Linked DNA regions of Homo sapiens. The protein of the gene in region 1 purifies or fractionates together with the protein of each later gene. This does not show direct contact. Each region holds a gene or a part of one and is shown in the gene's direction. Other genes may lie near its edges.

Region 1 (8,167 bases):
TTAAACAGTAACTACAAGTTTTCATGCCCAGCTTAAAGCATACTAAAGTTCAGGAGGATTGGCCACAGGACCCCTGAAGCCCATTTTTGAGTAGTGCAACAAATGCCCAAGTCTGACAAATATCCAAATTTTCAAAAAGTAAGAAGGTGAACTGTGGAATTAACAGGGTGAAAAATTTGACATGGATCCCTGGTAAAATTCCAGTATTAATTATTTTAGGAGATGTTTTATGAGCGATTGTGGTTAGCCTAGAGGAAATAATGTAAATAAATGTCTCTTAATCCAACTAGATTATTAAAGTATATGCTAACAGTCTACTGTGGAAGTATCTTTATAACAGCAAAGGGTATAGCAGTCTTTCATGAATGTATTGCACAAAAATATGTGAACTGGACATTATTACTATTAAGTAGATTAATATTGGGAAGAAAGACTGTACCCAGTCAGCCTGGAAGGTAGATGACCACGCATAGCATCTCTCCTGTAGCTCCTTGCACAGTGCCTTTGCACAGTATTCACTAAAGTCCTTTACAAAATTATAGACTTAGTATCCTTAGGGATCATTCTACTTAAAATGCCAATTTCCATTAGATGAGAATAAAATTTTATAAAATTGGGGGATTGAAGAAATTATTTTTGTATAATGATTTTTATTCAGCAAGCAATATGGCCAGGCATTTTCATATACAATATATGTATATTAACCCTCTCACAATGAATTTGTGCATAAGGGATTTGTTTTCACTATTTTACAGATGCAGCAATTAAGACACAGAGAAATTAAGTAACTTGCTCACAGTATCATAGCTAACAAGTTGCAGAATCAGGAACAAGATCTTCTCAATATAAAGTTTCTGCACTTCCCATAATACCACTTTATTGCTACTGTGCCAAGTATTTTCTTACCTCCTTTGTCTTTGAATAAATAGAAGACCCGACTGGGCTGGAAAGGCTGCATTTATATCCAAAGTAGTCTAGGTATGAGATCCAAGAGTCTGAAATCATTAGATTCTCTTCTAATTTTATCCTCTTTTGTACAAACAAGTTTTTAATCTCTTGGGCCTCAATTTTCTCAAGTATAAAATGAAGAAAGTATACCTCATTACCATTATAGTATCTTCCAGGTTTGCAGTTATTCTCATCATGAAATTTGATGCCAGGCAATGTGTTAAGTGATTTCCACGTATTAACTAATTTATCCTTATAACGGCTCTGAAATTTAGGTATTTACACTGGACCCATTTTGCAGATAGACAAACTAGGGTGGGTCTAAGGTATGATACACACACATTGTGAGTGGGGTAGCCAGGATTTAATCTCATAATTAAGCAAATTTTATTTCATTTTGATACATTTTTAAAACAGCTAACCATGACTATTCACAAAGGTATGCAATCCTTGCCCCCACTGAAAGCACCAGAACACCTTGGAAAAATGGCTGATTCCAGGTCTGAGGCAGGAAATGTATGACATGTGTCTGAAACATTTATCTTGCCATAAAGGAAAAAAGCAAAGACGCTTAGAGTTGGATGAAAAGGACACAGGAGATAAAATAAAGGGACTCCCACTGACCAAAGATGAAATAATTTGAACATTAAAAAGAATAACTACTGCAATTGATTGAGACTCATTGAATGTATTTTTTTAAATCCATGTGTTCATATTGATATGCAAAAAGAGAAAACAAAATTTTGCATTAGTTATCAACTGATGCAGAACACTTGATGTTGTGCACAAAAAGAGAAAACAAAATTTTGCATTAGTTGCACAAAAAGATTTTACATTAGTGCACATTAGATGCACAAAAAGAGAAAACAAAATTTTGCATTAGTTATAAAACTTAGAACCAAACATCTGTTGCAGTTTCCTCCCTCAAAGCCATTCCCCAGCTTCTGAAGACCAGAAATCTGGGAGCAGCTTGGCTGGTGGTCCTGCGTATGTCATAAGGTTGCACCCAAGACATCAACCAGGGCTGCAGTCATCTGAAAGCTTGACTAAGGTAGAAAGATCCACTTCCAAACTCACTCATGTGTCTGCTGGCAGGAGGCTTCAGTTCCTCACCACCTGGGCCTCTCCTTACAACATGGCATTTGGCTTTCCCAAGGGTGTGTGATCTACGAAAGAAAAACAGACCAAAACAGAAGCCGTAGATTATTTTATAACCTAATATTAGAGATAATGTAGCATCGGCCAGGTGCGGTGGCTCATGGCTGTAATCCCAGCACTTTGGGAGGCCAAGGTGGGCAGATCACTTGAGGCCAGGAGTTTAAGACCAGTCAGCCAACATGGCGAAACTCTATCTCTACTAAAATATAAAAATTAGCTGGGCATGCTGATGCATGCCTATAGTCCCAGCTACTTGGGAAACCGAGGCAGGAGACTCACTTGAACCCGGGAGGTGGCGATTTCAGTGAGCCAAGATCGCGCCACTGCACTCCAGCCTGGGCAACAGAGCAAGACTCTGTCTCAAAAAACAAAACAAACAAACAAACAAACAAACAAAACATAGCATCACTTTTACCAGATCATTCAGTCACACAAACCAACCCTGGTACAATGTGGAAGGGGGCTACACAAGGATGTGAATGCTGGACAGTAGGGCCCAGCTAGCCATTTTATAGGATGGCTATCACATTTTGTAAGGTGGTTACCATTGATGGCACCTAAGGCACAACTGCTTTTTCTGAAAATTGGCAATTATGTTGAAAATTAAACAGTCTTTCTTTCCTGTACAAACTACATTTCAGGATAACCAAATAGCCCTAAATTGCTAAATTGATGAAGGAAAGTTTTTCTTTATAGAGGAGTTCTAACTAATAAATGTGAAAAAATTATTGAATTAGAAAAATTACAATTTTACAAACTCTAATGAAATGGGGTGGCTGAATCTATCAGATTAAAAGCCAGTGGGAAAGTTTACATGGAAGGATTCAGCTATCAAGTATTAAACCCACTGGTCAATCTTAGCATCAAAAACATTATATGCTTCCTGATGTGTGGCAAAAAGTACATAGCACCACCTAAGGATTCTTACTAACAAAGTTAAACCTAACTCTAATCAAACCTTTAGAGGTAACATCAAGTTTTACAGGAAATATGAGGCTAGAGAAACTAATAAAATGGGGACACAAATAGACAAAGCCAGCATGTAGAACATTCAGGACAAATGTCCCAATTTGTTCAATTAGTTGACTATATGAGGGGAAGACGAAGAGGAGGATGGAAGGAGGAACTAGTTCAGATGTGAATTTTAAAAGAATTAAGACACATGCCCAAATTAAATACTGGAACTTTAGATCTTGAATGAAATAGAAAACAAATGTAAGAAGCATATGTATATATTTAGGGAAATATAATATGGACTTGGTATTAGATGATAACCAGGAATTATTTTGTTAAATGGGATAATGGTATTGTGATTCTGTAGGAAAATATCCTTTTTAAAATAAATGCATAATGAAGTTGAAAGTAAGATATTTGGGGTTTGCTTTAAAACGTTTCAGCAAGAAAAAATGGAGATGGATGAAACAAGTGTGGCAGAATTTTATGTATTTTTAAATGTAAATGATGGGTATATATGGGTTAATTATACTCTTCTTTCGACTTCTGCATAGGCTTAAAATAGTCTTTACTTTTGAAAAAGACATTCAATTATTTGTGTTCTTAGTTAATATTTAAAAGTAACTTTTTCATATATTTGTCACAAAACTTCTGTCCATTCCTATCTAGAGGTTCCTCTACATGGGAAAAAAGGAGCAAAAGGGTAATATTTCTGCAACCCCTTTGCACAGGCCATAAACGCACGCAAACTCCTAGAAGGCTGAGCCGCGAGGAGGAGGGCGGAGAGTTTAAGGGAACGCCTAGACCAGAGAGTTGACGCCTTTCCTAGAAAATCACCGGAAATGATAATTGGCGGACTAGGAAGTGGAGCTTCTGTATATTTCTGTTTCTCATTTCTTGGGGAGAGTACCGGCGGGAAGGTCTGTGCCTTGGGCCGTCGTGGGTCGGAATTTGCAGCTGAGAGGAGAGGAGTCCGGTGCCGCCGTCGCCCCCCTCACCTAAATACCCGGGCCCCTGGGGTTGCAGGCAGGGGCGGGTCTTTGGGGCCAGATTTGAGGAGGGAGTCGGCTGCGGTTTCCTCCCTCGAAGCCATTCCCCAAAATGAGCATTTCCCGCCCATTTGCCCTACCTCCTCCCAGGGGCTCGTGACCCATTTTTTTTTTTTTTTTTTGAGACCGGAGTCTTGCTCTTGTCGCCTCCTGACCCATTCTTTTTATTCTTCTCTACAGCATCCATTCATATATTCATTCAGTCAGCTAATTTTTAATCCAGCACATACTATTGCAAGCGCTGTTTTAGGCGTTGAGAATACAACTGTGAACAAGACGACAAAAATTCCTGCCCTCATGGAGCCTAAGAGCCTAGATTTTAGCGAAGGTAGAACCACCGTAAACAATGTATATATTAATAAGTAACTTATGCACCATACTGGAAAATTATAAAGTGCTATAGAGGAAAAGAAGAATTCATGTAAAGCAAGGTAAGGCCCATCAGGATTGGAAGGAGGGGATAGGCTGCAATTTTAAATAAGGCACTCAGAGTAGACCTCCTTGGGAAGATGACCTATAAGAAAACACTTGAAGGAGGCAAGATTATTAGCCATGGAGATCGCTTAAGGTGAAGGGAGCAGCCAATGGAAAGGCCCTAAGATGAAAGAGAAGGAAGGTCGGTATGGCTGAAGATTGAGGGAGTGGGAGAAGAGTAGAAGGTGTTGAGAATGACACATCCTGTAGACTTGTATGCCACTCTTAAGACTTCAGCTCTTATTTTGGGTGAGCAGGAGAGGAAGTTAGAAGTCACGGGCACATTCAGTAGGGCCTTGTATACCTCGGTAAGGACTTCAGGTTTTATTTTAAGTATGAACCACTGGAGAGTTTTCAGCAGAGCGATGAAATGATCCAACTCAAGTTGTAAACGGACTACTCAGACTGCCCTATTAAGAAAGGAGGTGGAGCTTGCAGTGAGCCGAGATTGCGCCACTGCACTCCCGCCTGGGCCACAGAGCGAGACTCCGTCTCAAAAAAAAAAAAAAAAAAAAAAAAAAAGAAAGGAGGAAGGCAAGGATTGAAGAAAGGAGACCAGTTAGAAGACTACCGCAGTAATGGAAAGGAGGGGAGATAGCAGGTGATGGTGGCTCAGACAAGGGTGGTAGCCGTTGAGATTGTATTCTGGATATGTTCACATTTTCAGTTTGACTTCGTGCCTCAGGTTCTCAGTGACTCCCTATTTTTTCCTGTGGTCACATTCCTCTTTTCCCTTCACCAAATATGCAGGGAAACAAGATGTGAGATCACAGCGGTTTAGTGTTGCTAATGAACCCCAAATCCAGGGCAGTGTTTGACACATTAAGCCAAACAGTAGCGGCACTGTGGGTCAAGAAGGGCCCTTTGGCTGGCACCACCAAAACATGTGTTCTCCAAAGGAGGCTGGCATCAACTGGAGCCACTTCACAGCTTGTTTGAGAACTGGATCTGACCAGTAGGAAGAAACCAGGACAGCAGTGGAAGACTGTTAAAGAAACCTGAGTAAAAAGATGCAGGAGGTAAGAAGAGGAGGGTCTGTGATACATCACAAGGAGGAAGAAGGAGAAGTGAGTCCAAGAAAGAAGGAAAGCAGTGTGAGTGGAGGTGTGTCTGACTCTAGATACTGTTGGAGGTGTCTCCTCCTAGATACTGTTTTTGCTGCTTGACCTGGTGATCATTAAAGCTTTGTAGTTGTAGATGCCATTTCTAGTTTTCATAAGGTATTAGGAACTGAGTCCATTATTTTCTCCCTTCTTTTGGTATTTCTGGGAGACAGTTTCTGTGGATAGACCTGTATGGTTGCTTGCATCTTCCTATGTATTTTTCTCACCTTCATAACTTTCCTGAATTCATTCTGTGTCTTGCAATAGGTTGTGCTGTTGGATGAGAGTTCAGGACCACCAAGCCAGCTGCTTTGGACCCGCCAGGATACCCAGCTCCCTCAGGAAAGCGGTGAGATACACAGGAGATTGTGGCAGGAGTCACGGCAGCTGAGAATGTAGTAAGGACACAGAGTGGGTGGAAAATGCCACACTGGGGCCCAAAAATCTGTTCATTAATGAGCATTTATAGAAAGTCTTATTTTGTTTCTATACGAGGCTTGGATCAATATCTAGAGGAACTAAATATTCAGTTTCTGTCAGTATCTTAAATTTTGAAAAAAATCAGTGTGTAAAAGATTCTACAAAGCAATTTATCAGAAAGAATCAATGCAGTCAGGCATTTACTGTTTGTATAACCTGAGATATATGGTAAATAGCGTACATATTTGCACATATTTTACACTTATAAAACTTGTGGTATAATTCAGTAATTCCTACCCAAACATAATTTTGCCAACATGTAAAATTTGAATATATACAATTTTACTTCTGCAGACCTTTCTGGAGCCCTGATACTTTTAAATGATGTATAGATATCTCCAAAATATAAAATAAAGCAGTGACAAAAGAAGAAGCAAAAGTTTTCCCATTGAAGCCTTGTGCTCTTTGGTGGCGTATGTGAGGAGGAAAAGTGGTTAAGATTTGTATAAAAGCTGATGGTAGGCCGGGTGCGGTGACTTATGCCTGTAATCCTAGCACTTTGGGAGGCCTAAGTGGGTGGATCACTAGAGGTCAGGAGTTCATGACCAGCCTGGCCAATATGGTGAAACCCCATCTCTACTAAAAATACAAAAATTAGCCAGGTGTGGTGTAATGCACCTGTAACCCCAGTTACTCAGGAGGCTGAGGCAGAAGAATTGCTTGAACCCAGGAGGTGGAGGTTGCAGTGAGCTGAGATCATGCCACTGCACTCCAGCCTGGGCAACAGAGTGAGACTCTGTCTAAAAAAAAAAAAAAAAAAATTGCTGTTGGAGGTGCAACCTAGGAGATAGTATATAGCAATTCAGGAGTCATAAAATCAAACCCAGAAAGGCATAGACTTTTGGACAGAGGAGTAGGCACATTCAAAAGTAAGCTTTTTAGTATATGCTACCTGCAAAAAATAAAAATAAAATGTGTTTCTAGATATAGTGTTGAAACATCTAGAGGAGGAATCCTGAGATATCTGCTGTACAAGGGATCACAAATGAGAATTAATAATATAGAACATAAATTTTTTATAGATTTAGAAATAAAAAATAATAGCTATTGCTAAACTCGGATGCACGAGTCTCCCAGTCTTCTTTTTCTCAAATGGTCGTGAAATCTGCTGTGGTGGATTTTCAGGGTCAGAAATTCTGTAGCCACCTATCATATAATACAATACAAATGTATTAATCTTATCCCACAAGATATCTGTATACTGCTTTAACAAAAAGTTTTATGTTGTTTTTTCATGTAGCCTGTTTCCTAAATTCATTTTTAACTTAAGAGGAATAACCTTTCAATTTCTAAAGCTAAAGCTAAAAAATAAAGCTTATGAATCACTATGAGTGACAGACTTTCCCAGTTGTGAAGAAGATATGGTAAAAACCAGTAGGGAATGAGTTACATAGGGGTATGCTTTTGTCAAAGTTTCTCTAAGGGTACATTTAAGACATGTGCATTTCATTATATGTAAATTTTACCTCGAAAAAGAAGGTAAACAAATGTTGAACTTCCAGTTAATGATATACATGTTAAACTGTTTAGGGGTGAGGTGTACTGATGCTTTCAACTTACTTTGAAATGATTCAAAAAATAAAATACATTAATGAACAGAGAGAGGAATAGATAAATGGATAAGTATGTGATAAAGCAAATATTGCAGAACGTAAATTGTGGAATGTAAGTGATTGGTATATGGATATTTACTATATAATTTTTTCAACTTTTCTATATACTTGAAAATATTCATAATAAAATAATGGTTGAAAACATCCAATTGAGAGCTTTAAGTGTGTTAATGTTATAAGGAAAAGAACTGTTATGTAACATTAACAAGGCACAAACATGTGTCTGCTGTGAGTTGTGTGCCATCCAGATGAGTTTAGACTTTTTGAGACAGTTATAAAGGAGCTCGGAGCTTTTAGAGTGAGACAGTGGAAAAACTGTATGGAACCACCATGACTGAGATGCAGCCTTGGTCTTGGTCAAAAGCTATAAGTAGCTGAAACTAAAGAA
Region 2 (8,283 bases), on another chromosome or scaffold:
GCATTCCTAGTCATCAGAATCAGTTGTGGATGTTCATCTGTTAATGCTGATCTGTAATGAGATTTTTATGTATTATACTGAGTTCATTTTTTTATATGCATATCACAATTCTGTGTGATATGAAAGGGAAATAAGTGAAATATAAGGAACGCGTAACTCCTGTTCTCATGGAATTTATAATCTATTTGGAAAATTATCATTGCAATAGGAGAGCCTCCTTAATGACGACAAGCATCACTGCTTTAGGAGAGATATGGAATAGTTCATTACATGTTCCCAAAATAATTTTTTGAGATTATTCATAGTTCAGAAGGATATCTATAAAAAAGTGAAGCCAGACATGTCCTTACTTTTATTAGGGGGTCTGTATTGTGGCGTATACTGACTGACACTTTTAATATTCTTCTCTTTTTTCTTGAGACAGAGTCTCACTCTGTCACCAGACTGGAGTGCAGTGGCGTGATCTTGGCTCACAGCAACCTCCGCCTCCCGGGTTCAAGTGATTCTCCTGCCTCAGCCTCCTGAGTAGCTGGGACTACAAGCATGTGCCACCACGCCCAGCTAATTTTGGTATTTTTAGTAGAGATGGGGTTTCACCATGTTGGCCAGGATGGTCTTGATCTCTTGACCTCATGATCCGCCTGCCTTGTCCTCCCAAAGTTCTGGGATTACAAGCATGAGCCACTGCGCCTGGCCCCTTTTTTCTTTTTTATATCGCCATCTCAGTATTCTATCATTTCATGATGAAATAGTTGTTTATTTTGAACAACTCAAATAGAAATTAATGGTACTATGTGCTGAATGTTACTTTTTTATACTATTTTTCCGTGATTATTTTTAAAAGGCCAGGTTTTCTTAGATGAGTTTTATCTTCATCTGCTTATTATCTTTTTAAAAAATGTATATCTCGTTTGTTTCTTTAAAAATCCATGGCAATTTTTTAGTTGTAATAGCACCAGGTGTGGTGGCTCATGCCTGTAATCCCAGTGCTTTGGGAGGCCAAGGCAGGAAGATCACTTGAGGCCAAGCGTTCAAGACCAAGCTGGACAACATAGTGAGACCCTGGTCTCAAAAAAATAAATAAAATAAAATTTAAAAATTATCTGTGCATGGTGGCAAACACCTGTAGTCCTAGCCATGCAGGAGGCCGAGATGGGAGGATCGCTTGAGGCCAGGAGTTCAAGGTTACAGTGAGCCATGATCACTGCTTTCTAACCCAGGCAACAGAGCAAGACTAAATAAATAAATGAGTGAATGAATACATAAATAAAAGGTATGTGTGTACGTTATAATACCAAGAACAGCACATATTTAGACCATATTACACATCTAATTGCTTAAAATATATAAAAGAATAATAAAATTTTTTCTTGATACAAACCTATCCAAAATTGGCCAATAGTATACAATTGATAAATTACATGGATAGCAGTCACATATAAGAAGAGAAAGAAGCAGAAGAGGAAAAAACATATCTTCCCTCTTTAATGTACTTAGAATCAAGAAGATGAAAAGAGCCAATCACTCCTGTGGGGTCACACATGAGGTTAGAGGTCACATATAGTCTCTAAATTATAAATAAATTGGGGAACACTTACATACTAAGACATTAAGTCTTCTTTAGTAAACCCTAAACAGCAGTTGGAGATAGGAATCCCATCCATGATGCTTGATGTTTTCCTTTTTGCTGTAACGCAGCATGCCTTAGAGTTATTCTTTTCTAAGGCATGTTATTACCTGTTCTATAGTAATGCACCAAGAGAGATAGGAAAAATTTTTTTGAAATAGGCCAATGATTCCAAAACTAGCCTTAGTTTCTCCCCTGAGCTTTACACTGTAATAATGTTTGGCTATGTCCCCACCCAAATCTCATCTTGAATTATAGTTTCCATAATCCCTACATGTTGTGGGAGGGACCTGGTGGGAGGTAACTGAATCATGGTGGTGGTTACCCTCATGCTGTTCTCGTGATAGTGAGTTCTCATGAGATCTGATAGTTTTATAAGGGGCTTCTCCCCCTTTCTCTCTGCACTTCTCCTTCCTCCTGCCATGTGAAGAAGGATGTGTTTGCTTCCCCTTCCACCATAATTGTACGTTTCCTGAGGCCTCCACAACCATGCTGAACTGTGGCTCAATTAAACCTCTTTCCTTTATAAATTACTCAGTCTCAGGTATTTCTTCATAGCAGCATGAGAACGGACTTACACACCCTATACACCCTAGTATGCCCAAGTACCACTGATAGCACCACCTAAATTTTTAAGGCTGTATGAAACTTAAAATGTGAAAAACAAACTCTCAACTCTCCCCTCCCAGCCTATTTTCTTCCCAGCCTTCTCCATATTAGAGAATACCATTGCCCTTCACCTGCCTAGCTAGTCAGGCACAAAACCTAAGACCTATCCTTGGTTCCTTTTTTTTTTCTTCTCACCTCTAACATCCAAACCATTAGCAGTCCTCTTTGCCCTTACATCAGAGTATGTTGCAAATCAAACCTTTTTTTTTTCTTTCTTTTTTTTAGATGGAGTCTTGCTCTGTCGCACAGGCTGGAGTGCAATGGCGTGATCTTGGCTCACTGCAACCTCCACTGCCAGAATTCAAGCAATTCACCTGCCTCAGCCTCCTGAGTAGCTGGGATTACAGACGCACACCACCATGCCCAGCTAATTTTGTATTTTTAGTAGAGACAGGGTTTCACCATGTTGCCCAGGCTGGTCCCGAACTCCTGACCTCGGGTGATCCGCCCACCTCGGCCTCCCAAAGTGCTGGGATTACAGGCGTGAGCCACCACACCTGGCCCACACCATTTTTTATCAGCTTTCTAATGCATATCCCCTGTTGCTGATCTCTCTTGTCTATTGTCCACAAGCTGACAGTTTTTTGTTTGTTTGTTTGGTAATTCATATCATGTCTGTCCTGACCCACAACCTCCCAATGACTGCCTGTTGTAATTAAAATCCAAACTCCTGCTGGATGTGGTGGTGCATGCCTGTAGTCCCAGGTACTCAGGAAGCTGAGGCAAGAGGATCGCTTGAGTCCAGGAGTTCTGGGCTGTAGTGCGCTATGCATTCTGGTATCCACACTAAGTTCAACATCAGTATGGTGACCTCCGGGAGTGAAGGACCACCAGATTGCCCTAAGGAGGGGTGAACCAGCCCAGGTCGGAAACAAAGCATGTGAAAACTCTGGTGCTGATCAGCAGTGGGATCGCACCTGTGAAAAGCCACTGCACTTCAACCTGGACAACACAGTGAGATCTCGCCTCTTAGGGAAAGGGAACAGAAAAGGGAAAGGGAAAGAGAAGTCCAAACTCCTTATTGTAGCCTGTACTAGCATTTATTGAGCACTTGCTATATGCCAAAGACTTTGTTAGGTGTTTTGCATATATTAACTGATATAATCTTCACAACAGTCCTGTGAGGTTGAAACTATTATTAACCTCATTTTACAAAGCAAGAGTGTAATAGGAAGGTTAAGTAACTTATCCAAATCACACAGCTAGTAAGTGGCCAACCTGGAATTCAAAGCACAGAGTCTGCCTCCAAAGCAAGAGTCTGGCCCCTTTATACCATCCAACTTGATGTCGTCATTTTGCTTTTCTTTAGCCACACTGGCCTTTTTATTCCTCAAGCACATCAGGCTTGCTCCCTGCATAGGAGTTGTGCACTGGCTGTTCCTCTGTCATCTCATCATTTAAGTCTCCATTCAAATGTCTTTTTCTCAGAGAGATTTTTGCCTTACCACTGTCTTTAAAATTACCCTCCCACATATACAGTGTCACCTTTTTCCTATTTTCATAGTAGCATTTACACTATCTGAATTGATCTTAATTCTTTTAATGTTTGTTTCTCTAGAAGTATTTACTTAATAACTGTTGTTGGATGGATGGTTGCTGACTATTGAGTATTGGCTAGTATAGTGGTTAAGGATATAGGCTTTGAAATCAGACTCCTGGGTTCATGTCACAGCCCCACTACTTAGTTGTATGAAGTTAGGCAAGTCACTTAACAATTCTTGGCCTCAGTTTCTCCATATGTAAAATAGAAATAATATCTCCCTTATAGGATTGTTATCAGAATTAAATAGAATAATGTGTATGTCTCTTAAAACAATTCATAACACCTAAGAACTCAAACCATGTTATTTGTTATTTATTTATTACACTTAAGTTTTTGTAGTAACAAATATTACTATTACTATAATATTGAATGAATGGCATACCCAGAATACTCTTTGGAAAATCATGTTTCCAGGCCCTCCTCCAGGCCAACTGGGTTAGAATATCTGAGAAAAGGGCCCATGAATCTTTTAAAAATACATAGATTTTAGGGAGTCTGATAAATATCCAACCTTGGGAACTATGATAGTAGGCTTTTAGCATCACTATTTAGGATCAACCTGGACAGTTGTGTCTGTGTGACATCATCAGTGACATCATGACACTGCAGTGACACCATATAGTAATTTGTAATTTTGCTGAGATGTAAAGTGAGAGCAAGTCATTCTGATAAGTGGACCTAGAAGACCCTTACCACTCTCCCTAACATCCCCATTACAGTGCAGCCTCATTCTCTTCCCTGTATCTCTGTTGGCAAGCAGTAAAACTTAGAGTGACTCTAATTTTATTTCTGCTTGGAAAATCATCTCAAAAAGAAAACTAACCAAGAAATATGGGGATGCCAGGAAAGATTTTTTTTTTTTAAGTAGTGGTTCTACCGTAAACTGTAAGAAAAAAAAAAATCATGAAGCCATTGGGGTTTTTTTTTGTTTGTTTGTTTGTTTTTTTGTTTTTTTTGGCAGGTGCACCAACCAATGCAAAAACTGCACATTATCAAGGAAATTACATGCTATTGCTATATCTATAAGTTCGGGTTTATAAGTTCAGATATTAACAAAGCTTTTGTGAATCTCATGAAAGAGATTGTGTAAGACATGATTTCTGCCTTCCTAGAGCTGGAAAGACAAAACCACTGTACACAAACAACAGCAATTGAGATTAAAGTGAATAATAAATGATAGACAGCCAGTGCTGTTTATTTCAGAAAAGAAAGTGAAAAATATCAGCTAGAAGGGTTCATTGAAACAGTAGTGGCTAGTGATGACAAACAACAAGTGTTCTTTAGTTGCAGGACCAGCTCTGCCCCCTAATTATAAAAGCAGTAGTTCAGATTCATCAGACAGCGATGAAGACAGTAGTTCTTTGTACGAAGAAGGAAATCAAGAATCTGAAGAAGATGACAGTGGTCCAACTGCAAGGTCAGTCATTTAATTAAATTAAATGATAGACCAAACTTCAGAGCTAGTATAAGTTGGCTGGAACAGATAGCTAGTAAGGGGATATCATATTTCCATTTATACAGCACAGGGAGAAATCATTTTGTGTGGCATTTCATCCTGAATTATACCTTTTACAAAGAAATTTATTCTAGTAGTTTGCAGCTATAGAGATATCTAGAATTTCAATATATATGTATATTTTTTCCTGAGACAGGGGCTCACTCTGGCGCACATGCTGGAGTGATGTGGCACGATCTTGGCTCACTGCAGCCTCTGCCTCCCAAGCTCAAGCGATCCTCCCACCTCAGTCTTCTGAGAAGCTGGAACCACAGGTGCCCGCAAATTTTTGTATTTTTTGTAGATTTTTTGGTATTTTTTGTAGAGATGGGGTTTCATCATGTTGCCCAGGCTGGTCTCAAACTCCTGGACTCAAGTGATCTGCCCGCCTCAGCCTCAGAAAGTGCTGGGATTACAAGCATGAGCCACCACACCAGCCAATAAAATTCTTACATAAATGATTTTTCTTAAGATGTCATTGAAGTGCCAAAATAGGCTACATAAACCATAGAATTTCTTATTAAAATTATATATGCAGTGTATGTTTTCTTTAAATAAACTAATGGTTTTCTTTTTTTTTTTTTTTTTTTTTTTTTTTTTTGAGATGAAGTCTCACTCTGTAGCCCAGACTGGAATCCGGTGGCACGATCTCAGCTCACTGTAGCCTCTGCCTCCTAAGTTCAAGTGGTTCTCCTGTCTCAGTCTCCCAAGTAGCTGGAACTACAGGTGTGTGCCACCATACCTGGCTAATTTTTGGATTTTTTAGTAGAGACAGGGTTTCACCATGTTGGCCAGGCTGGTCTTGAACTCCTGACCCCAAGTGATCTGCCCGCCTCGGCCTTTTAAGGTGCTGGGATTACAGGCATGAGCCACTGTGCCCAGCTGAATGATTTTCCTCTAATCTGGCCTTACCCACTATGAGTCTATGTAAATGAGAAGTCAAATCTTTGTTTATTATTGAGTAACAAGCTTTTTTGATTCATTTTAAATATTATCAGGTGGAAATAGCAACTTAAAACCCTTCCTTAGATGAGAATAAAAGTCACAGTCATAAACTTTTTACTGAGAAACATCTGACCAATAGACTTTGAAACTGCATTGAGGGGAATCTTTAATACCACAGAAAATATAGAATAGTGATATATTACTGCTGTAAAGAAATAACCAATCTGTATTTTAGGCCAAAAATAAATTCCAGGAAAAGACTAGTTACGAACTATTGTCGTAGGCCAGGTGCAGTGGCTCACGCCTGTAATCCCAGCACTTTGGAAGGCCAAGGTGGGGAGATCACTTGAGGTCAGGAGTTCGAGACCAGCCTGGCCAACATGGTGAAACCCCGTCTCTACTAAAAAATACAAAAATTAGCTGGGCGTGGTGGCGCTTCCCTGTAATCCCAGCTACTTGGGAGGCTGAGGCAGGAGAATTGCTTGAACCTAGGAGTGGGAGGTTCCAGTGAGCCAACATCACGCCACTGCACTCCAGCCTGGGCAACAAGGCAAGACTTCCTCTCAAAAAATAAAAAAAAAAAAAGAACTATCGTAGTATCCAGTTTTTATTTGGCAGGATTAATTTATTGTTGCAGTGTTTATACAACTAGATTTAATGCTTTTTTAAAAAAAATTAAAATGTGCTTTTGTGAAAAAAATTTTGACATATATGCATAAAGTTATACTACTATGTTTTCAGAAAACAGAGGAAAAATCAGGATGATGACGATGATGATGATGATGGGTTTTTTGGACCAGCCCTTCCTCCTGGATTTAAAAAGCAGGATGATTCTCCTCCAAGGTGATAATGTGTAATATTTTAGGCCAGTCTTTCTTTAAATATTTTAACTAATGAATCTTTAATGAATTAAAGAATTGTCTGAAATTATGTTTTAACTGAAATATTTATATAACATTTTGAAATGGGTCATTCACCAGGAAAAGAAGTTGTTTCCTACAATAAAAATAATTATTTACATGTTTATGACACTTTCATAGTTTACAAAAAACTTCCACATCTGTTATTTGATATTCACAAAAGTGTTTTGTGGTAAACGAGGTGGATCACCCCTCTCCCCACTTTATAAACAGATAAGGTCACACACATAGTAGCAGACCTGGAGCTAGAATCTTGATGTTGTGACTTTTAATTCAGTTGTTTTCTTAATTATTTATCAATAGAAGAAACACATCCCCATGTGCCATGTTAGACAATTGGACTAACTTCTCTGAATCTTAAATTTGTTATCTGTAAGCTAGGATAACAGCATGTACTTTACAGAATTGTGATGATTGAGGTTTCATAGTTACATACCTTGACTTTGTGTGTGGGTGTTTAATTTATATGGAGCCTGGCACAGAGTAAGTATATAGTAAATATTTATTCCTGTCTTCTTCCCAGAATTGTAAAATTTTTAAATGCCAAATATAAGATCGCACATCAAATTGTTTATAATTCATAATACTGTATACCAATATGCAAGAACAAGCAGAAAAGGCTTTTTATTTTATATTCAAAGTTTATAATCACATTTGGCAGCTCCTAACTTCCATTAACTTTAGTTGTTTCAGATATACAGGGATAGGCAATCTACAGTCCCCAAACTAAAAATGATTTTTGCATTTTTGAGAGTAGCTGAAAAAACAAAGACAGATATGCCACAGAGACCCACATGTGGCTCTCAAAGCCTAAGAGTTACTATCTAGCCCTTTATAGAAAGTTTGCTGACCCCTAGGATGTAACATTCCTTTTAAGAAAACATATTACTTAAATGTATACCAATTTTATTCTTAAGAATATTATTTTGGCAATAATAAAATGTATGTGTAAAATAAACAGCTGGCATTATATATTGGAGTTAGAAACCTTTTATAGTATCATAACATGCCATGGTTTTATTCCTTTACTATGTTTTATGATTTTATATACCAGTAATTTTATCACCACCAATCCCCTGAGGCC
Region 3 (8,283 bases), on another chromosome or scaffold:
TGACAGTAGATGAAGCTAAGATGCAGGTAAAGCATTGCTGAAGACTGTAACTAGATTTGATTAGTGGAACTAGTGGTATAGCAATAGCCCTTGGTGCCCCTGAATCATACCCTACATGTTTAATCTTTTAGCATATCTTGTCAGATCTTACTTTTTCTTATTTCCTTGCCACCAGCCTTATCCACACCACCAGTATTTTGTGTCTGGATTATTGCCGTAGCGTCGTAACTGTTTACCTTGCCTCCGTTCTATAATCTTTTGTCAGCAGCAATAGCCTCCTAACTGGTCTCATTGCTTATATCCTAGGCCCGCTGTGGTCTGTCCTTAACAGCAACCAGAGTGATCCCTTTGAACCATAGTTTGCATTCATGTCACGCCTGCACAGAACCCTCCAAGGACTCCCATCTTCAATCATCCAAAGCAGAAGTCTTTATGGTGGTCTCTAAGGCCCTGGCTGGTCTGGCTCTCTGCTGTCTCTCTAAACTCTTTTCCCTTATTCATTGCCTTCCAGGCACATTGACCTTTTTTCAGACATGCCAACCACTCAGGGATTTTGTGCTGCCTATTCTCTTTGTCTGGAACACCCTTTGTTAAGATATCTGCATGACACTGTCCCTTGCTCTTAAGTCTCTGTTCAAATGTTATGTTAAACTACCCCTAGTCTTCCTATTCCCTTTACACTGCTTTGTTTTTCTGTCTTAGCACTTAATCATTTGTCATATTATGCAATTCTTTTTTTTTTTTTTTTTTTTTTTTTGAGACAAGAGTCTTGCTCTGTCACCCAGGCTGGAGTGCAGTGGCACTATCTCGGCTCACTGCAACCTCTGCCTCCTGGGTTCAGGTGATTCTCCTGCCTCAGCCTCTGGAGTAGCTGGGATTATAGGGATGCACCACCATGCCTGGCTAATTTTTGTTATTTTTAGTAGAGACATGGTTTCACCATGTTGGCCAGGCTGGTCTTGTACTCCTGACCTCAAGTGATTTGCTCACCTTGGCCTCCCACAGTGTTAGGATTACAGATATGAGTCACTGCACCGGGCCTATTTCTTGTTACTTGACCCAACAAGAATATAGGCTTCATAAAGACAAGGGACTTACTACCTTACAATCTTGCCAGTAATTTTATTATAAACTTGAAAAAAACTGTCTACATTTCATTTTTTGTTTGCTGTATGTAAAGCATATTTTATGATATTCAGTAATCACATTTTTTACTCTGAAAGGTAGGCACTGAATTTAGTACTAATGTTTTTATTAATGTTTCTTAAAAGTTTTTGAGAAAAAAAGGAAGAAACCAACTCATTCAGAAGGCTCGGATTCCTCTTCCAATTCCTCCTCTTCTTCAGAATCATCTTCAGAAAGTGAACTTGAACATGAGAGAAGCAGAAGGAGGAAACATAAGAGGAGGCCAAAAGTTAAACGTTCTAAAAAGAGGCGAAAGGAAGCAAGCAGTTCAGAAGAGCCAAGGAATAAACATGCAATGAACCCAAAAGGGTACGTGTAAAACACCAATGTACTCTTACCTAAAAACAAACACTCTGGAATGGGAAAAGTATGTATAATTCTATAAACTCAATTTTATTACCTGTTATTGAAAAAGGATAGCACTTTTTAAACTTTAAATTGAAATCTGGCAAATCTAGGAGTAGGTAGCATAGGCATTTCATTTCAAAGATTTGTGTGTTTTCAGTTTTCGGGTGAAAATAGTCCTAAGAACTCTTTTTTTAAGAGATAGGGTCTTGCTCTGTTATCCAGGCTGGAATACAGTGGCACAATTATAGCTCACTGCATCCTCCACCTCCTGGGCTCAAGAGATCTTTCTGCATCAGCCTCCTGAGTAGCTAGGACTACGGGCGTATACCACTATGCTTGGCTAATTTTTAAATTTTTTGTAGAGACAGGGTCTTCCGCTATGTTGACCAGGCTGGTCTCTGACTCCTGTCCTCAAGCAATCCTCCCACCTAAGACCCCTAAAGTACTGGGATTACAGGTGTGAGCCACAATGCCTGGCCTCCTGGAACTCTTAAAATAAAAAAGTTAGGATCATTTAACAATTTTCCTATCAAAATTCTAGTCTTTGGGTTTTTCACTGGGTTGATATTGTTCTCTTTGTGAAAATCATATAACTCTTTTGAGTGAGACTTGTAAGCTATCGTTAATTATGCTGTTGTTTTAGTAACTAATTTTATGTGCTTTTATTATGAAATGCAAACATTATACATTTTAATCAGTGACTTGGTTTGTTCTAAGTCACTCTGAGAGGAGTGATACCAATGAAAAAAGGTCAGTTGATTCCAGTGCTAAAAGGGAAAAACCTGTGGTCCGCCCAGAAGAGATTCCTCCAGTGCCTGAGAACCGATTTTTACTGAGAAGAGATATGCCTGTTGTTACTGCAGAACCTGAACCGTAAGTAGGATGACTAAACTATTTATTTTTATTTCTCCGATAACACTGTTCCGTCAGCTCATTGCATTCCACACTCATGTATGGAACATGATCCATGTTTGAAGCACATTGAAAGATAGTATGGGAGTATTAGATTAATGAATGATACGTAGGAAATATGGGGGATACCAGATTATTGAGTGATATGTACCCTACCTTTCAGAATTCACATTCTAGCAGGGAGAGGAGGTTGGGCAAGTTGGTCAGGGAAGCCCTTATTGGGGATCTGGAAAGATTTTATTCCTGATCTTCTTGCCTTTGCCTTTTATTAGAGGGGTGAGGTTTTAGTTATCAGAATAGAGAGTTAGTTGAATTCTTTGGATCCATTTGAGTGATGAAGCATGGGTTCCAATTTGAATAGTGCATAATTAATTGCATGATGATTGGAGATACAATTTAGTATCATAAATAAGTTACTTTTGTTAACTTGTTCAACAATTACTTCCTGCATTGGAAAAGTGAATGTGTCGCTTTAGATTTGGTCTGAGAAAATAGTATTTAATGTATTTTGTGTGTTAGACTCAAGTTTAGAATTATTGAAAGAAAATGTTTCATGAACAGAAATATCATAATGGCTGGTGTCATTGATAAGTTCCCTATGAAGAGTTATTTTGAAAGCTGAAAAGTATAAGAGTCCTTATTTATAATTAGCTCTCTGCATAAAGTTATCATTTAGTTCATTAAATATTTTTTAAAGCCTGATATTGTCTTGTTTTAAAAAGCTATTGCAAAATGGCATGTATCTTTGAATTAATAGCTTAACATAATGTGTTTTCATTATTAAAAATTCTAGCTTCTTTGCTTATTTTTAATTTTCATCACAATCTTCTTTTCCTAGGAAGATTCCTGATGTTGCACCCATTGTAAGTGATCAGAAACCATCTGTATCAAAGTCTGGACGGAAGATTAAAGGAAGGGGCACAATTGTATGTGTGATAAGACTTTTTTTGATATTATGTATCTAATAAAAAATTTTTACCTATTTTCAAAGTCCTAGCGTTAATTTTAGATATAATACAAAATCTGTTCAAGGAACTAATTGTATTTTCCATGGTTATGGGAAGGTATTGCTGTTAGATCAAAGTATACTGCTGTGTTTGAATGGGTTTAATTGAGTATGAAAGGAGGAACATGTGAAACCATCAGTGAGTATGCTGAGAAATCATTAAGACTTTAAAAAGGAAAATTTTATGTGGATTACAGGTGAATCTCAGCCTTGCCCATCTCTTTTAATGCCTTGTTTGAAATAACTTCACCTGAACCTAAAATAAAAGTTAAAAACTAAAAAAAAAAAAAAAAAAAAAGAACTTTAGACCATCCTTTTGGTAACTTCAATCATTACCTTTGATGGGATGATCTGAGATTGGGTCTTTTACTTAACTCTGTCACATAGCAGACTGTCGTGGAGAGGCATTTTTTAAAATACTATTGTTTTTGTTTTTAAAGCGCTATCACACACCTCCAAGATCAAGATCCTGTTCTGAGTCAGATGATGATGACAGCAGTGAAACTCCTCCTCACTGGAAAGAGGAAATGCAGAGATTAAGAGCATATAGACCACCTAGTGGAGAAAAATGGAGTAAAGGAGATAAGTAAGAACTTTGAGTATAAGCACAATCCTGTGTCTGTTATATTTTAAATGTTAAAGGGATTGGATACAATTCTGGACTTTTCATTAAAGATTCAGTGAAAGATTCACAGTCAGACTGTGACCAAAGGAAATACATTTGGGACTACTTGATGAAAGTAGTACTGTTAACTAGTTGGGCTTTTAAATCAAAATCCTGTTTTCCTTAACAAAAACTATAAGCCTGTGTCTTTTAATGACCTCTTAGTCAATTTTAGAAATAATTAGGACTTAGAGGCCGGGCGTGGTGGCTCACGCTTGTCATCCCAGCACTTTGGGAGGCCGAGGCAGGCGGATCACGAGGTCAGGAGATTGGGACCACAGTGAAACCCCATCTCTACTAAAAATACAAAAAATTAGCCGGGCGTGGTGGCGGGTGCCTGTAGTCCCAGCTACTTAGAGAGGCTGAGGCAGGAGAATGGTGTGAACCCGGGAGGTGGAGCTTGCAGTGAGCTGAGATCGTGCCACTGCACTCCAGCCTGGGTGACAGAGCGAGACTCCGTCTCAAAAAAAAAAAAAAATAATTAGGACTTAGAAATTATATAGCAGATTCTTTCCTAGCCAGCCAGGTCACTGATGAGTTCATTGGTAAATAGGAAAACCTGCACTCGGTGTTCATGTTGACTGTTGATCGCAGAGACTTGCTTTTTTAGAAGTGTACACATCTCTTACCTTCAGTGATGTCCCACAGTTGAATATTTATTTTAGGAAGGGGATAGGCCCCAGAATAGCTAGTGAAAAATATACTAATGGGACCCTGTGTAATCTTCCATGGTAGTATTCTCTTTTTCTCTGGGGACATCCTGCAGAGTGGTTTGGAATTGTGAAAAGGAGGAAAAGGAATGCATCTGCTGTGTAGAAGCGGCTCAGACACAGTGGTGCTGAGGACTTTCAGTTCTGAGCCTTGACATTAACACTCAGATTGTAACCTGTATCTGTTTTTGTGTACTTTTTCCTCAATTTCTGTTTTAAGTAGTTTACAGTCTTAGGGGAAATCTGGATTACCTGTCTGAGGTGGAGAAAAAACAAGCTTCATGCTAGTTTCAAGCAGCTATCCTGCATCTTCAGAAAATCAACAAATTGTTTGAGACCTTGGTTTGACTCACCCTCAAAAACTGTCCTAGAGGCAGAGGGTTGTGAGCAGATAACAGCCAGGAACTCTTGTGATTTGAGTTCAGCAGTGTTCTTGTGATTAGTTGGTTTGCTTTTCAAAAACATTTTCCTAACAAATGTAAGGTTCTTTGCTTAGCTTAAAAAAAAAATCCTTTTGTAAGTGAATTTGTTAGTAGTTCTTAGTGTGTGTCTCTGAAAGTATAACAAGACCAGGCCTATAACTCTGATTCACGCTTCCTGCGTGTGCTTAAAGTGTTAATGGGGTCAAGAACTTTGTTGTTAACAAAGCTGTGTCTTAAGGTGTAGAAAACATGCTTATAAATCACCGCATGAATATTATGTCCTTTCTATAGGTTAAGTGACCCCTGTTCAAGCCGATGGGATGAAAGAAGCTTGTCTCAGAGATCCAGATCATGGTCCTATAATGGATATTATTCAGACCTTAGTACAGCAAGACACTCTGGCCACCATAAAAAACGCAGAAAAGAAAAAAAGGTTAAGCATAAAAAGAAAGGGAAAAAGCAGAAACACTGCAGAAGACACAAACAAACAAAGAAGAGAAGGATTCTTATACCGTCTGACATAGAATCCTCAAAATCTTCCACTCGAAGAATGAAATCCTCTTGTGATAGAGAAAGGAGTTCTCGTTCTTCCTCATTGTCATCTCATCACTCATCAAAGAGAGACTGGTCTAAATCTGATAAGGATGTCCAGAGCTCTTTAACCCATTCCAGCAGAGACTCATACAGATCAAAATCTCACTCACAGTCTTATTCTAGAGGAAGCTCAAGATCAAGGACTGCGTCAAAGTCCTCATCACATTCTCGAAGTAGATCAAAGTCCAGATCTAGTTCCAAGTCTGGGCACCGAAAGAGAGCATCAAAATCACCAAGAAAAACAGCTTCTCAGTTAAGTGAAAATAAACCAGTTAAAACAGAACCTTTAAGAGCAACCATGGCACAAAATGAAAATGTAGTAGTACAACCAGTTGTAGCAGAAAATATTCCTGTAATACCACTGAGTGACAGTCCCCCCCCTTCAAGATGGAAGCCTGGACAGAAACCTTGGAAGCCCTCTTATGAGCGAATTCAGGAAATGAAAGCTAAAACAACCCATTTGCTACCCATCCAAAGCACTTACAGTTTAGCAAATATTAAAGAGACTGGTAGCTCATCATCCTACCATAAAAGAGAAAAAAATTCGGAAAGTGATCAGAGCACTTATTCAAAATACAGTGATAGAAGTTCAGAAAGCTCACCAAGGTCAAGGAGCAGATCTTCTAGGAGTAGATCTTATTCCAGATCATATACAAGATCACGTAGTCTAGCTAGTTCACATTCAAGGTCTAGGTCTCCATCATCTAGATCTCATTCACGAAATAAATACAGTGATCATTCACAGTGTAGTAGATCATCTTCATATACTTCTATTAGCAGTGATGATGGAAGGCGAGCTAAGAGGAGACTTAGATCCAGTGGGAAAAAAAATAGCGTTTCACATAAAAAGCATAGCAGCAGCTCTGAAAAGACACTTCACAGTAAATATGTCAAAGGTAGAGACAGGTCTTCATGTGTGAGAAAGTATAGCGAGAGCAGATCATCTTTAGATTATTCTTCAGACAGTGAGCAGTCAAGTGTTCAGGCCACACAGTCAGCCCAGGAAAAAGAGAAGCAGGGCCAAATGGAAAGAACACATAATAAACAAGAAAAAAACAGAGGTGAAGAAAAATCCAAGTCTGAACGGGAATGCCCTCATTCAAAAAAAAGAACTTTGAAAGAGAATCTTTCTGATCACCTTAGAAATGGCAGTAAGCCCAAAAGGAAGAATTATGCTGGTAGTAAATGGGACTCTGAGTCAAATTCAGAACGAGATGTCACTAAAAACAGTAAAAATGACTCCCATCCATCCTCTGACAAGGAAGAAGGTGAGGCCACATCCGATTCTGAATCAGAGGTTAGTGAAATTCACATCAAAGTCAAACCCACAACCAAGTCGTCCACAAATACTTCACTGCCTGATGATAATGGTGCTTGGAAATCAAGCAAACAGCGCACATCAACTTCTGACTCTGAGGGGTCCTGTTCCAATTCGGAAAACAATAGGGGAAAGCCACAAAAGCACAAACATGGGTCAAAGGAAAATCTTAAAAGAGAACACACCAAAAAAGTGAAAGAGAAATTGAAAGGGAAAAAAGACAAAAAGCATAAGGCTCCAAAACGAAAGCAAGCATTTCACTGGCAGCCTCCACTAGAATTTGGTGAAGAGGAGGAGGAGGAGATTGATGACAAGCAAGTTACTCAGGAATCAAAAGAGAAAAAAGTTTCTGAAAACAATGAAACCATAAAAGATAATATTCTAAAAACTGAGAAATCCAGTGAAGAGGACCTTTCAGGTAAACATGATACAGTGACTGTTTCATCAGATCTTGATCAGTTTACTAAAGATGATAGTAAACTCAGTATTTCTCCCACAGCTTTAAATACTGAGGAAAATGTGGCCTGTTTACAAAACATTCAGCACGTTGAAGAAAGTGTTCCCAATGGAGTGGAAGATGTGCTTCAAACAGATGACAACATGGAGATCTGCACTCCTGATAGGAGTTCCCCAGCAAAAGTAGAGGAGACTTCCCCTCTAGGAAATGCACGGCTTGATACCCCAGATATAAACATTGTTTTGAAGCAGGATATGGCAACGGAACATCCTCAAGCAGAGGTAGTAAAACAGGAAAGCAGCATGTCCGAAAGTAAAGTGTTGGGTGAAGTGGGGAAACAGGACAGCAGCTCTGCTAGCTTGGCTAGTGCTGGAGAAAGTACCGGGAAGAAGGAGGTGGCTGAGAAGAGCCAGATCAACCTCATTGATAAGAAATGGAAGCCCCTGCAAGGTGTGGGGAACCTGGCAGCACCTAATGCTGCCACATCCAGTGCTGTGGAAGTTAAGGTGTTGACCACTGTGCCTGAAATGAAACCACAAGGCTTGAGAATAGAAATTAAAAGCAAAAATAAAGTTCGGCCTGGGTCTCTCTTTGATGAAGTAAGAAAGACAGCACGCTTAAACCGTAGACCAAGAAATCAGGAGAGTTCAAGTGATGAGCAGACGCC

Evidence for each region. The genes of interacting proteins can lie anywhere in the genome.
Region 2: the proteins of ZNF311 (region 1) and GPALPP1 purify together in Homo sapiens (affinity purification with mass spectrometry; 2 studies listed by BioGRID and IntAct, with this or other methods). This does not show direct contact.
Region 3: the proteins of ZNF311 (region 1) and NKTR purify together in Homo sapiens (affinity purification with mass spectrometry; 2 studies listed by BioGRID and IntAct, with this or other methods). This does not show direct contact.

What each region holds. Positions count from the first base shown.
Region 1 is NC_000006.12:29,001,381-29,009,547, reverse strand, and holds the start of ZNF311 (zinc finger protein 311), read left to right. Parts: upstream 1-4,232; 5' UTR 4,233-4,540; exon of another isoform or gene 4,541-5,008; intron 5,009-5,113; exon of another isoform or gene 5,114-5,333; 5' UTR 5,334-5,593; coding exon 5,594-5,602; coding exon of another isoform or gene 5,603-5,677; exon of another isoform or gene 5,678-5,687; intron 5,688-5,953; coding exon 5,954-6,035; intron 6,036-8,167. UniProt on the Homo sapiens protein: May be involved in transcriptional regulation.
Region 2 is NC_000013.11:44,999,182-45,007,464, forward strand, and holds part of GPALPP1 (GPALPP motifs-containing protein 1), read left to right. Parts: intron 1-2,968; exon of another isoform or gene 2,969-3,266; intron 3,267-5,123; coding exon 5,124-5,256; intron 5,257-7,020; coding exon 7,021-7,122; intron 7,123-8,283.
Region 3 is NC_000003.12:42,631,330-42,639,612, forward strand, and holds part of NKTR (NK-tumor recognition protein), read left to right. Parts: intron 1-1,271; coding exon 1,272-1,494; intron 1,495-2,231; coding exon of another isoform or gene 2,232-2,250; coding exon 2,251-2,406; exon of another isoform or gene 2,407-2,407; intron 2,408-3,283; coding exon 3,284-3,371; intron 3,372-3,891; coding exon 3,892-4,037; intron 4,038-5,538; coding exon 5,539-8,283. UniProt on the Homo sapiens protein: PPIase that catalyzes the cis-trans isomerization of proline imidic peptide bonds in oligopeptides and may therefore assist protein folding. Component of a putative tumor-recognition complex involved in the function of NK cells.